Linked DNA regions of Homo sapiens: regions 2, 3 and 4 are each linked to region 1. The links come from fine-mapping of genetic effects on gene expression. A gene starts in region 1. Each other region holds a variant in brackets. All regions are shown on one strand. Distances are between the middles of the regions.

What was found.
Region 2: its variant is fine-mapped to the expression of MERTK in whole blood (INTERVAL, PIP above 0.99).
Region 3: its variant is fine-mapped to the expression of MERTK in whole blood (TOPMed, PIP above 0.99).
Region 4: its variant is fine-mapped to the expression of MERTK in whole blood (TOPMed, PIP 0.99).

What each region holds. Positions count from the first base shown.
Region 1 is chr2:111,897,594-111,900,206 of GRCh38, forward strand. MERTK (MER proto-oncogene, tyrosine kinase) reads left to right here and starts at 1,014. Exons shown (of 19, transcript NM_006343.3): 1 at 1,014-1,203. The coding sequence starts at 1,143. RefSeq lists an enhancer at 153-482.
Region 2 is chr2:112,016,228-112,018,932 of GRCh38, forward strand. The region is part of intron 15 of MERTK (MER proto-oncogene, tyrosine kinase); the gene reads left to right. Among named protein-coding and RNA genes, the nearest start is that of TMEM87B, 38 kb to the right of the region's middle. The variant G/A (reference allele first, on the strand shown) is at 1,260.
Region 3 is chr2:112,058,284-112,060,988 of GRCh38, forward strand. TMEM87B (transmembrane protein 87B) reads left to right here. Exons shown (of 19, transcript NM_032824.3): 2 at 1,694-1,754. Among named protein-coding and RNA genes, the nearest start is that of TMEM87B, 4.4 kb to the left of the region's middle. RefSeq lists a silencer at 2,291-2,505. The variant G/T (reference allele first, on the strand shown) is at 1,204.
Region 4 is chr2:112,000,282-112,002,986 of GRCh38, forward strand. It overlaps MERTK (MER proto-oncogene, tyrosine kinase), which reads left to right. Exons shown (of 19, transcript NM_006343.3): 11 at 920-1,005. Among named protein-coding and RNA genes, the nearest start is that of TMEM87B, 54 kb to the right of the region's middle. The variant G/A (reference allele first, on the strand shown) is at 1,436.

The DNA of each region.
Region 1 (2,613 bases):
CACTGATAGGTTTAGGGAGATTTGAGGAGAGGGACATGATTTGGCTTATGTTATGTTGTTAAAGGGACCACATTAAAATACATTCATTCTAAAAGTGTTACCTTTAAGAAACTACGTATATAAATTAAGTTACTGTTGCCATTATTAGCGTAAGTAGTTACATTTCTCTTACGACTCACTCTCTGCTACTGCCTCTTGGACCCTGCACACCTTGTGGAGGCCCATGAGAGTGACGTGCTGTGGTTCCCCCTCTCCCCACTCCTGCTCTGCACTTTGTCATTCACGTTCATCTCCCTCCTTGAGTGTCACCTCTCTCTGGCTCGTCACGGAGCCACGGCAAAGCGTCCTTTCCCAGGAACCCCTCCCCCTGGGGAGGTGAGCTCCTCGCCGCCAGGGCCGTGTCGCGCACCTCGGGCCGGGTACCCAGGCGGCGCTCGGCGGCGAGCGGAATGGATGTGGAGGAGCGCTCGGCAGGGAGCGCTGCCGCCCTGGCCTTGGCCTCTGGGAGCGGCGCGGCCAGGGTTTTCTGTGTCAGCCAAGCCCGGAATGCGGGGGCGCCTCTGGACCCTCCTCTTGGGTCTGGGGGCTGCCTCGGGCATCCTCTACTCCTCTCCCACCTTCTGTCCTTCCCCATCTCCCACCCACACGTGTGGGGCCCCGGACCCGCGCAGCGGCCAGAGCCTTCCGCTGTGGACCTCCAGTCCACCCCTCCCCTTCACTTCTCTTTCCGGCTCCCTCCGGGTCTCTCAGCCCCCTCCCCTTCCTCTCCGCCCCCTTCCCCGCCGTCTGCCCAGCGGCGGCCTTCGGCCCGCCCCTTCTCTCCAACCCCCTCCCTTTCCCCTTTACGCCCCTCCTCCCCCTCGTCCTCCCGCCCCCTCCCACCCCAACCTGCTGGGCCCGCCGGGACTCGCCCCCCTGCCCGCTCCTCTCCTCCAGCCCCGGCCGGCCTCGGCTCGGCCCCCGGCCCGCCCCTTCCAGCCCTCGGCACCTCCCGCCGGCCGCTTGGCTCCGCCACTCGGCACTCACTGCCCGGGCCGCCCGGACAGGGAGCTTCGCTGGCGCGCTTGGCCGGCGACAGGACAGGTTCGGGACGTCCATCTGTCCATCCGTCCGGAGAGAAATTACAGATCCGCAGCCCCGGGATGGGGCCGGCCCCGCTGCCGCTGCTGCTGGGCCTCTTCCTCCCCGCGCTCTGGCGTAGAGGTGAGTGCGCCCGGCTGGGGGCCAGGCGAGGGGGTGGGGGCTCCCAGGAGGAAGCAGGGGCCTCTGGGGAGGGAGCGCGTCCACAGGGGCGCGCCTGGCTGCTGGACAAGTTTGCAAACACCCTCCACCCACTGCGGTGCCAGAGGAGGGGGCGTAGGCGAACCTACCGTCCACTGACCGCGGCGCCTCAAGCGTCCCGAGGGCACCCAGCCTGGCTTGCGGGTGCGCATCGTGGTGAAGCCGGGTCGGGGTCGGCGTTGCAGGCTCCCCTCTTCACCGCAGAGGAGGAAATCGAGCTCGGCCGGGCGCGCTGCAAGTCCTGAAGTTCCGACGAGTGGAACGTAGGTAGCAGGTCTGGTCTGGGATGCGACGAGAACTTTCCACTAGAGTTGCATGGTGGGGCCCCGCTCTGGCCGGAGTCCCGGGGGCCACAGATCCGGTCTCCCGAGGGACCGGCGCGGGGCGAACGAACGGGCTGCGGGAGTCGGAGCCGCAGTCCGGGAGCCGCGATAGACTGAGGCCGAGCGACGGGCCAGGGGGGGACGGCAGTCCTGGCTGCTCCCAATGGGCCCTTACGGGCATTATTAGTATCCCTTTTTAGGGGCACCCAGAGAGTGTGGGAAAAGGGGAGCGTTCTTTTCACTCCTGTTATGGCAGAACAGAACTTACAGTGCTCGGCAGCGTTTACGTTTATCTGGATTCAGCGAAGTGTTGTTACAGGCTTTTTTTTTTTTAATTTGAGACCGAGTCTCGCCCTGTCGCCCAGGCTGGAGTGCCGCGGCGCGATCTCGGCTCACTGCAGGCTCCGCCTCCCGGGTTCAAGCGATTCTCCTGCCTCAGCCTCCCGAGTAGCTGAGACTATAGACGCGCGCTACCACGTCCGGCTAATTTTTGTATTTTTAGTAGAGACGGGGTTTCACCATGTTGGCCAGGATGGTCTCGATCTCTTGACCTCGTGATCTGCTCTCCTTGGCCTCCCAAAGTTCTGGGATTACAGTCGTGAGCCACCGCGCCCGGCTTGTTCCAGGCATTTTAATACAAGATGCTGGACTGATACGTGGAGGCAAGGAAGGCCGGTTTCATTCTGCTTGAACAGCTTATTTGGGGAGTGAGTGATGAACAGATTTCAAGTTTGATCGCTGATGCACTTCTTGAGGAGGCTGGAATAAACTTACCAGGCTTTACCCAAAAGAAAAAGAAAGGGGAAAAATGCTAAATAAACACATTCCAAGTATTTTCTCTCAGCTAAAAGGTTTCTATTTCCATTCAGCATGTAGATTTTCTCTCTTTTGATCGAGAATGCACTTGACTAGCCTTCACCTATTACAGTCAAAGATGTTTTTTAGGAATACCTGGAAAGCTCAGTTTATAGTCAAGTAAGTTACTTAAAAGTTTTTCCTTTGAGATTTT
Region 2 (2,705 bases), 120 kb after region 1:
AAATAACAAGTAAGGGAAACAAGTACACAACATTTTACTGACTGATGAATAGTTTCCATTTGCAAAAAAATACAAGTGTATTTTCAATGATGGAAAATAACTTTCAAGTATTAAAAAGATAAAAAGGAATGTAGTTTCCTATTTTGTTGCTTAGTAGCCACAGATAAGGTGGAAGACACAAAGTGCATAGACAAACAGAAAAATCAAGCTTTTATTCAGATCTTTTCTTTGCTGCCTGGAATAAATAGCTCCTGCTCCTGCTAGAGCAGCCCAAGACTATTATCAGTGCATTTGATACTGCGATGGCCCAATATCAATGTATTTAAACATGCTTCTCCAGGAGGGCTAGGGTGCTGGACCCATAGTGCCACTCTGCCCAGGGCAGACATTGTCTCTGGAGCTGTGCAGGGCAGACAGGTAGATGATGAGACATGACCCCCAGTTCTCATGGAGATCGATAGTACAAAGGGAGATAGGCTGTAATAACATATGCATCACACAGTGATGTGAGCAGCCTGCTAGAGCTTCAGGGAAGAAATGAGTTCTGACTGGAGAAATGTTTAAAATATTCTACACTGCTGACTGGGTGTGGTGGCTCACGCCTGTAATCCCAGCAGTTTGGGAGGCCAAGGCGGGTGGATCACCTGAGGTCAGGATGTGTCCGGAGTTGGTTCCTTCTGGTGGGTTCTTGGTCTCGCTGACTTCAAGAATGAAGCCGCGGACCTTTGCAGTGAGTGTTACAGCTCTTAAAGATGGCATGGACCCAAAGAGTGAGCAGCAGCAAGATTTATTGTGAAGAGTGAAAGAACAAAGCTTCTACAGTGTGGAAGGGGACTCAAGCGGGTTGCCACTGCTGGCTGGGGGTGGCCAGCTTTTATTCCCTTATTTGTCCCCACCCACATCCTGCTGATTAGTCCATTTTACAGAGTGCTGATTGGTCCATTTTACAGAGTGCTGATTGGTGCATTTACAACCCTCTAGCTAGACACAGAGTGCTGATTGGTGCATTTACAGTCCTTTGGCTAGACACAGAGCACCAATTGATGCGTTTTTACAGAGTGCTGAATGGTGCATTTACAATCCTTTAGCTAGACACGGAGCACTGATTGGTGCATTTACAATCCTCTAGCTAGACAGAAAAGTTCTCTAAGTCCCCACTCAACCCAGAAAGTCCAGCTGGCTTCACCTTTCAAGGAGTTTGAGACTGGCCTGGCCAACATGGAGAAACCCCATCTCTACTAAAAACATAAAAATTACCC[G/A]GGCGTGGTGGTGCATGCCTGTAATACCAGCTACTTGGGAGGCTGAGGCAGGAGAATCGCTTGAACCTGGGAGGGAGAGTTTGCAGTGAGCTCAGATCGCGCCACTGCACCACTCCAGTCTGGGTGACAGAGCACGACTTCGTCTCAAAAAAAAAAAAATTCCACACTGCCATCATGGATATCCTCAAAAGAGTGGTAGGAGGAGTACAGTGGAAAATTAAGAGCAGCACACAAGATCAGAATGAGCAAAGACCAAATGATCTGGGAGCATACCTATGTTTTAAGAAAAGCAGATTGTCTCACATGGCAACAGCAAAGCAATGGAAGGATAGGAGGAGGGGTGATAAAACAGGAAAGAGAAGTTGGGGTCAATGTTTAGGTTCTACAACAAGTAGAATGACTTCACCAGCATGTAATACAAAACCCAACTCAAAATGACTTTCAACGGAGATACAGGATCTCATGCAATAAAGCCCAGAAGTAGCACAGTTCCAGAGTTGGCTAGGTGGGTGCTTGAGGAATTAATTGAGAAATTAAAGGGCTACAATTGCATTTGTAGCCCAAGCTATTAAAACAGCTCCTACACAAGAAGAAGGAGGAGGAGAAGAAAGAATTTTCTTAATTTCATTTTCAGATTATTCATCACTAGTATATAAAAATACAGTTGATTTTTGTATGTCCATCTTGTATCCTACAACCTTGCTGAACTCATTTATTAATTCTGCTATACAATTATTTTTTAAGTGACTTTTGGTCACAGTCTCCAGGAATAACAGAAGTGTTCTAGGAAAAAACAGCACAAATGAATAGTACCTGATACTCATTACATCTTCATGAATGACAGCAAGATGCAATATTTCTTATGACCCAAATCCTTTCCTGGAAATCAGTATCTAGAAAACCAAATACCCAAATAATACAGAATAGAGGCATAAAACTTCCATACTTAAAGATTAAGACATTTCATTTATTTATACAGTATGTAATTGACATGTGTCTTGGAGTATAAAATCATTGAAAATGCAATGTCTTTCCAAAATGAGTACCATTTTGGAAAACTCATGTTTGGAAAGGAAGCCATGGCAAATTCAGTGCCTTGGGGAGGGTACATAATGGATGGACCCATTCATGACTGCCAGGGACTTGTGCAAATCCTTTTCTGCAGGGCCATGATTGCACTAAAACACTTAATTACTACATGGAAGTTTTATCAGCAGTCATCCTCATAACTGATTCCAACAGTGGCTGGTTTTCTAACACAGCAATCTAGTTTGATTTTTATAAGCTAGAGAAAACACTAGACTGTTGAAACTTATAGGCAGGGCCTACGGGAGCAAAATGAAAATTCCTGAATATGTACTTGTGGTGCTTTGGTCCTGTGATAATTGGTGAAGACTCTCCTAATTTCTGTTTAGAAGAAACGAGTATCTTTCAAAACATTTCGTA
Region 3 (2,705 bases), 160 kb after region 1:
GGCCTTGAGCCTGAGGCCAGAGGCCTCAAACTCAAGGACCTGTGTTGGCCAAGGCAAGTCATATCATTAAGCACAGTGAGCTAAGTTCAGGACTGGAGGGGGTAGTGAGGAATGTTGTGGACTACAGATTGCATGCCCATTCTGAAGAGGGCAGCTGCCATTTGGCTTCAGCTTACTCTGCATACATTCTAGCAGAGTGGGCACAGAATTGCCACAGCTCGTTTTTTTAAGTGAGACTGGAATCCATCTTTTTATTATGTCAACTAAAGTTTTAAAAAGGCCTCTTGTGGGCCCAGTATATCCCATTTTTAGGTTGGATTAGACCTCCAGACTCCCAGTAGCTACTTTAGGATGTGAATGAGGGAGCCATTGAAAGATCTTAGACATAATGCTAATCACTATGGCTGCTGTCTAAAGATGAATTATAGGATCAGATCTGGAGGTAGAAGTACCAGTTAAGCTATTGCAGAAATTAGGCAGGAAATGCAGAGGGCCTAAATTAGGGCAGTGGTGACAGAGATGGAGAGGAAGAACTAAATTTGATAAATGTTTGTGAGATAAAGTAGGCATGCCTTGGGGATTGGGTGATGGAAGTGGGGAACTGGAAGGAGCCATGGCTTGGGTGACTGTAGATGGTACCACCTCCAGCCAAGGTGGACAATGTAGGAAAAGTTGGTGAGCAGAGAGGAGTGTGTCTGGTTTAAAACAGGTTTGTCTGTTGGACATCTGTCAGTGGACATGTCCTTTAGGCAGTTGGGTATTTGGATCTGGAGCTCAAAGGAAGGATCCAAGTTGGGAATTTTATTGTTGTTGTTGAAACTCTGTTGGGGAAGGGAAGAGGTTACCACTTGTCCTATCAGTGTTTTTTGTTTTGTTTTGTTTTGTTTTTAATGCCTAATCATTTGTACATTTAACACAGTCTCTAACTGCAGGATTTTTATTCCTGAGAAGACATTAAACAACTAATCAATTATTTGATTTAAATTGTGGAAAGGTTGTGAAGAAGAAAGGGTGCTAGGGATTATATAAGGGAGGGCCTGGCCGGATATGGGCCACAGTGGAAGAATTCCTGCAGAACGGGCTTTTGAGCTGGGCTTTGAAGGGTGAGAAGGAGCCAACTAGATGAACAAAGGGTGAAAGGAAGGATTTTAAAGTAAATTTTTCAGGTTGACCACTAATCCTGAGGGCAGGAAAGAATATCAT[G/T]CTTTTCTGGAACTGGAAAGTTGAGAGGTGGGCAGGACTTGATTATTCACGTCCTATAGGCTACAGTAAGAATTTCGGTCTGTTGTAATTGCATTGGTAAACCATAACGACTTGGAGCTGGGAGAGGGGGACAGTTCCTTATCAAAAGTACATTCAAATTGACGCCAGGAGAGCAACATGCAAATGCAGTCAGTTCATGTCACGTCTGAGCAGCACTAATCCTGCAATGGCAGCATCTTTTACCTCTTATGTGTCACTGGCCCTAACTGAGTCTGCTAGAGGCCAGAGCCCTCCTGATCCTCAGGGTAACTGCAGGAAGTAGAACCATGACAAGGTTTTAAGCAAGTTAGTGATGTGATCAGATTTACGTTAAAAAAATACTCTTGTCAGAGAGAGGAGTGCAAGGCTTAGAACTCTATATGTTGTGGGGTAAAACAGTTGCAAAAAAAACTTTCTAACAAGATCTTCCTGTGTTTGTTTTTCATTTTAGAAATCAGGACCTTTGATATTTAGGAAAACTATGTTTAACTCTACAGATATCAAGTTATCTGGTAAGTATAATAAAACAATAAAATACTAGACTGGGCGCAATGGCTCACGCCTGTAATCCCGGCACTTTGGGAGGCCGAGGCAGGTGGATCACAAGGTCGGGAGTTCAGGACGAGCCTGGCCAACATAGTGAAACCCCGTCTCTACTAAAAATACAAAAAAAGTTAGCTGGGCATGGTGGTGGGCACCTGTAGTCCCAGCTACTTGGGAGGCTGAGGCAGGAGAATCACTTGAACCCGGGAGGCAGAGCTTGCAGTGAGCCGAGATCGCGCCACTGCACTCCAGCCTGGGCGACACAGTGAGACTCTGTCTCAAAAACAAACAAACAAGAATAATGAAATACTAATATATATATAAACAACATAATATAAACAAATACATTCATGTAAATGAATATAACATATATAATAAACTAAGCAAATGTTTTGTTTTTAAGTAGTTCTAACATTTTAAGGTTTTGTTTTGTTTCAGTCAGCACTTGGTTATTTACAAGAATGGATTTTTCTTTTTTTTTTTCTTGAGACAGAGTCTTTCTCTGTCACCCAGGCTGGAGTGCAGTGGCAAGATCTCGGATGACTGCAACCTCCGCCTCTCAGGTTCAAGTGATTCTCCTGCCTCAGCCTCCCTAGTAGCTGAGATTACAGGCGAACGCCACCACGCCCAGCTAATTTTTGTATTTTTAGTAAAGATGGGGTTTCACCATGTTGGCCAGGCTGGCCTCCAACTCTTGACCCCAGGTGATCCACCCACCTCAGCCTCCCAAAGTGCTGGGATTACAGGCATGAGCCACTGTGCATGGCCCACAAGAATGGATTTTTCTGATCTTCTTTCAGAAAATGTAATGTGAATCATTTTATGAAAATTATAATTAAAGTCTAATAGACGAACAAAAAAAATTTGTTTTTTGTGAAATTTAACTTTGAGTCTCAGATTTTTAAAACTAGATAAATTGC
Region 4 (2,705 bases), 100 kb after region 1:
AATATTGATCCATTGTCATTAACTAACATCTCTACTTTCTTGAGATTTCCTTAATTTTCACCTAATGTCCCTTTAGTGTTCTGGGATCCCTTCCAGGATGCCACATTTTACAGTCAGTCATCACATCTCCTTAGGCTCCTCTTGGCTGTGGCCATTTCTTAGACCTTCCTTGTCTTTGATGATCTTGCCAGTTTTCAGAAGTGTTAGTCGGGTGTTTTGTAGGATGCCCCTCTATTGCAATGTGTTCGATGTTTTGCTGATAATGAGCAGGGGTTATGGGTGATTGAGAGGAGGAGCACAGAATTAAAATGCCATTGTCATCACTTCTTATCAAGGGTGCATATTAACATGATGTATCACTGTTGATGTTGACATTGATCACCTGGCTGAAGTAGTATTTGCTGGGTTTCTCTACCATGAAGTTATTTTTTCTCCCTTTCCCTACTGTTCTTTGGAAGCAAGTCACTATGCATAGCCCATATTGACAGCATGAGGGTTTAACTCCCTCCACCCCTTACTAGCTACATAAAATATTTGGAATTCTTCACCACAGGAGATTGGTGTCTTTTCTTCCATTCATTCATTCAATCATATTTTCATAAGTATAGACTTATGGATATTCATTTTATACTCATAGTCTAGTATTACTTTAGTTTCTTGCTCAGACTGTTACAGCTTTGGCCACTGGGAGCTTATCTGTTATTCTCTGTTCTTGGCGGTACCTGGCTAGAGTAGTTTCAATATTGCCAAGTAAGTCTAAAATAAATCAAAGGAAAGAAACACGTTTCTTCTAGGGGGAAAGCTTTTGTTGTAGAAGAGCCCATTGAAAAGCGGAAGCTCTGTAGCATCCTTGTGGAATCAGTGCCTGCCCCAGTAGCCCTGTTTTTATAGTGAAGTATCTTTGTTTTCATTCACCCAGGAATGCATTCACAGAGGAGGATTCTGAATTAGTGGTGAATTATATAGCAAAGAAATCCTTCTGTCGGCGAGCCATTGAACTTACCTGTAAGTTGACTTTCATTTCCCTTTTTGGCAAAAGTTAAAATAGTTGAGAACAAAGAAGGATCAATAGACAGATTTCTAACAAAAGCCAAAGATGTCGAAGAAGAATGGATATTTTTAATGTACAAAATGTCTTTAAAAGCAGCAAGTAGATAGCCAGACATTGCCATGCACAGCTCTGTGGGCTAATTTACTGCAATCAGGAGCTTGACCTGGGGTTAAAAGGACTCACAATGTCATGAAATGTGGCAGAAAAGAGGAACCTTCTAGGGTGACAGAAGATGGGTAGAGGCCAGGGATTTAAAGAAAACTTCTAACTAGTGAACATAATCTCAAGCCTCATTTCCTGTTTTCCTGGCAACCAACTCCGAGGATGATTTGCCAACATGCTTTATAGTAATTATGGTTTGAGCTTTGCTGAATCAGAGAGTGG[G/A]GGCTTCTGGTTTAAACAGCGGAAATAAACAGACACTAGTGTTCCTGAATAATTTCAGAAAAAGTATAGAAAGGACATGCAAATATTAACAAATTCATGCTTCTGGATGTTTGCCCCCAATAAAGAAAATAGATAAGAATGACAGAATACAGGTTGCTATGAAATAGAAACTTGCTTGGTGTAGAATATTATTAATTTCTTTACCTTTCTAGTCTGTAAGTTTTGACTTTTAGATATCCTCAATTTTTTTTTTAATTTAAAATTTTAAAATTTGTCATTTAGACCACTTTCTTTCCTTTATTGGAGAACCACTGGATAAAGCTTTTTCTCTGAGAACTAATGTGTCCTAATTATCCACATTTTTTTGATCTTTCAAGAGCTTGTTCATGCCTTAACTGTGGTCCAGACTGAATCATTTGCCAAGAGTTGTTGAACTGGTCCCCTTCTGGTTAATTTCTCTTGTTGCCAACATGACTCATCTATTATATACCTTACTATATTATATATTTTATTATAGAAAAATCTTTTTCTCCAATTCCTCAAAGTGCTCAATTTAGCCCTTGCTATGCTGTTATAATAGGTTTCATATACAGTATGTAAAATAAGAGCTTATTCTCTAGATGTTTCCTGTGGTTTGTGAGACTCCGTCCATGGCATGGGAGGGTAGGGGACGTGTGGTTCTTTTGTATACTGTAGTCAAGGGTATAATATTAATAGTAAAGAATTCACCAGAAATTACCTATTGACTTATCTTCCTTACCCCTTTAAGTCAAAGGCAAACCACCCCTACATGAATCTGATTACCGGCTGCTGCTACCACACAACAGAATGAGAAATGTGGTTCTGATTTTTGTAATTCTTCAGAATTAACCTTGCCCTGAAGGATTCATTATACTTAGTTTAATCATTCTAAAGTATGAAATTTTATTACTGGCATTTTTGGGAGAGAAATAATAGATACAAAATGAAAAAAGGGGCCGGCTATGGTGGTTCACACCTGTAATCCCAGCACTTTGGGAGGCCGAGGTGGGTAGATCACTTGAGGTCAGGAGTTCGAGACCAGCCTGGCCCAGATGATAAAACCCGTCTCTACTGAAAATACATAAATTAGCTGGGTGTGGTGGTGCATGCCTGCAGTCCCAGCTACTTGGGAGGCTGAGGCACAAGAATCGCTTGAACCCAGGAGGCAGAGGTTGCAGTGAGCCAAGGTTGCACCATTGCACTCCAGCCTGGGCAACAGAGCTAGACTCTGGCTCAATAAATAAATAAA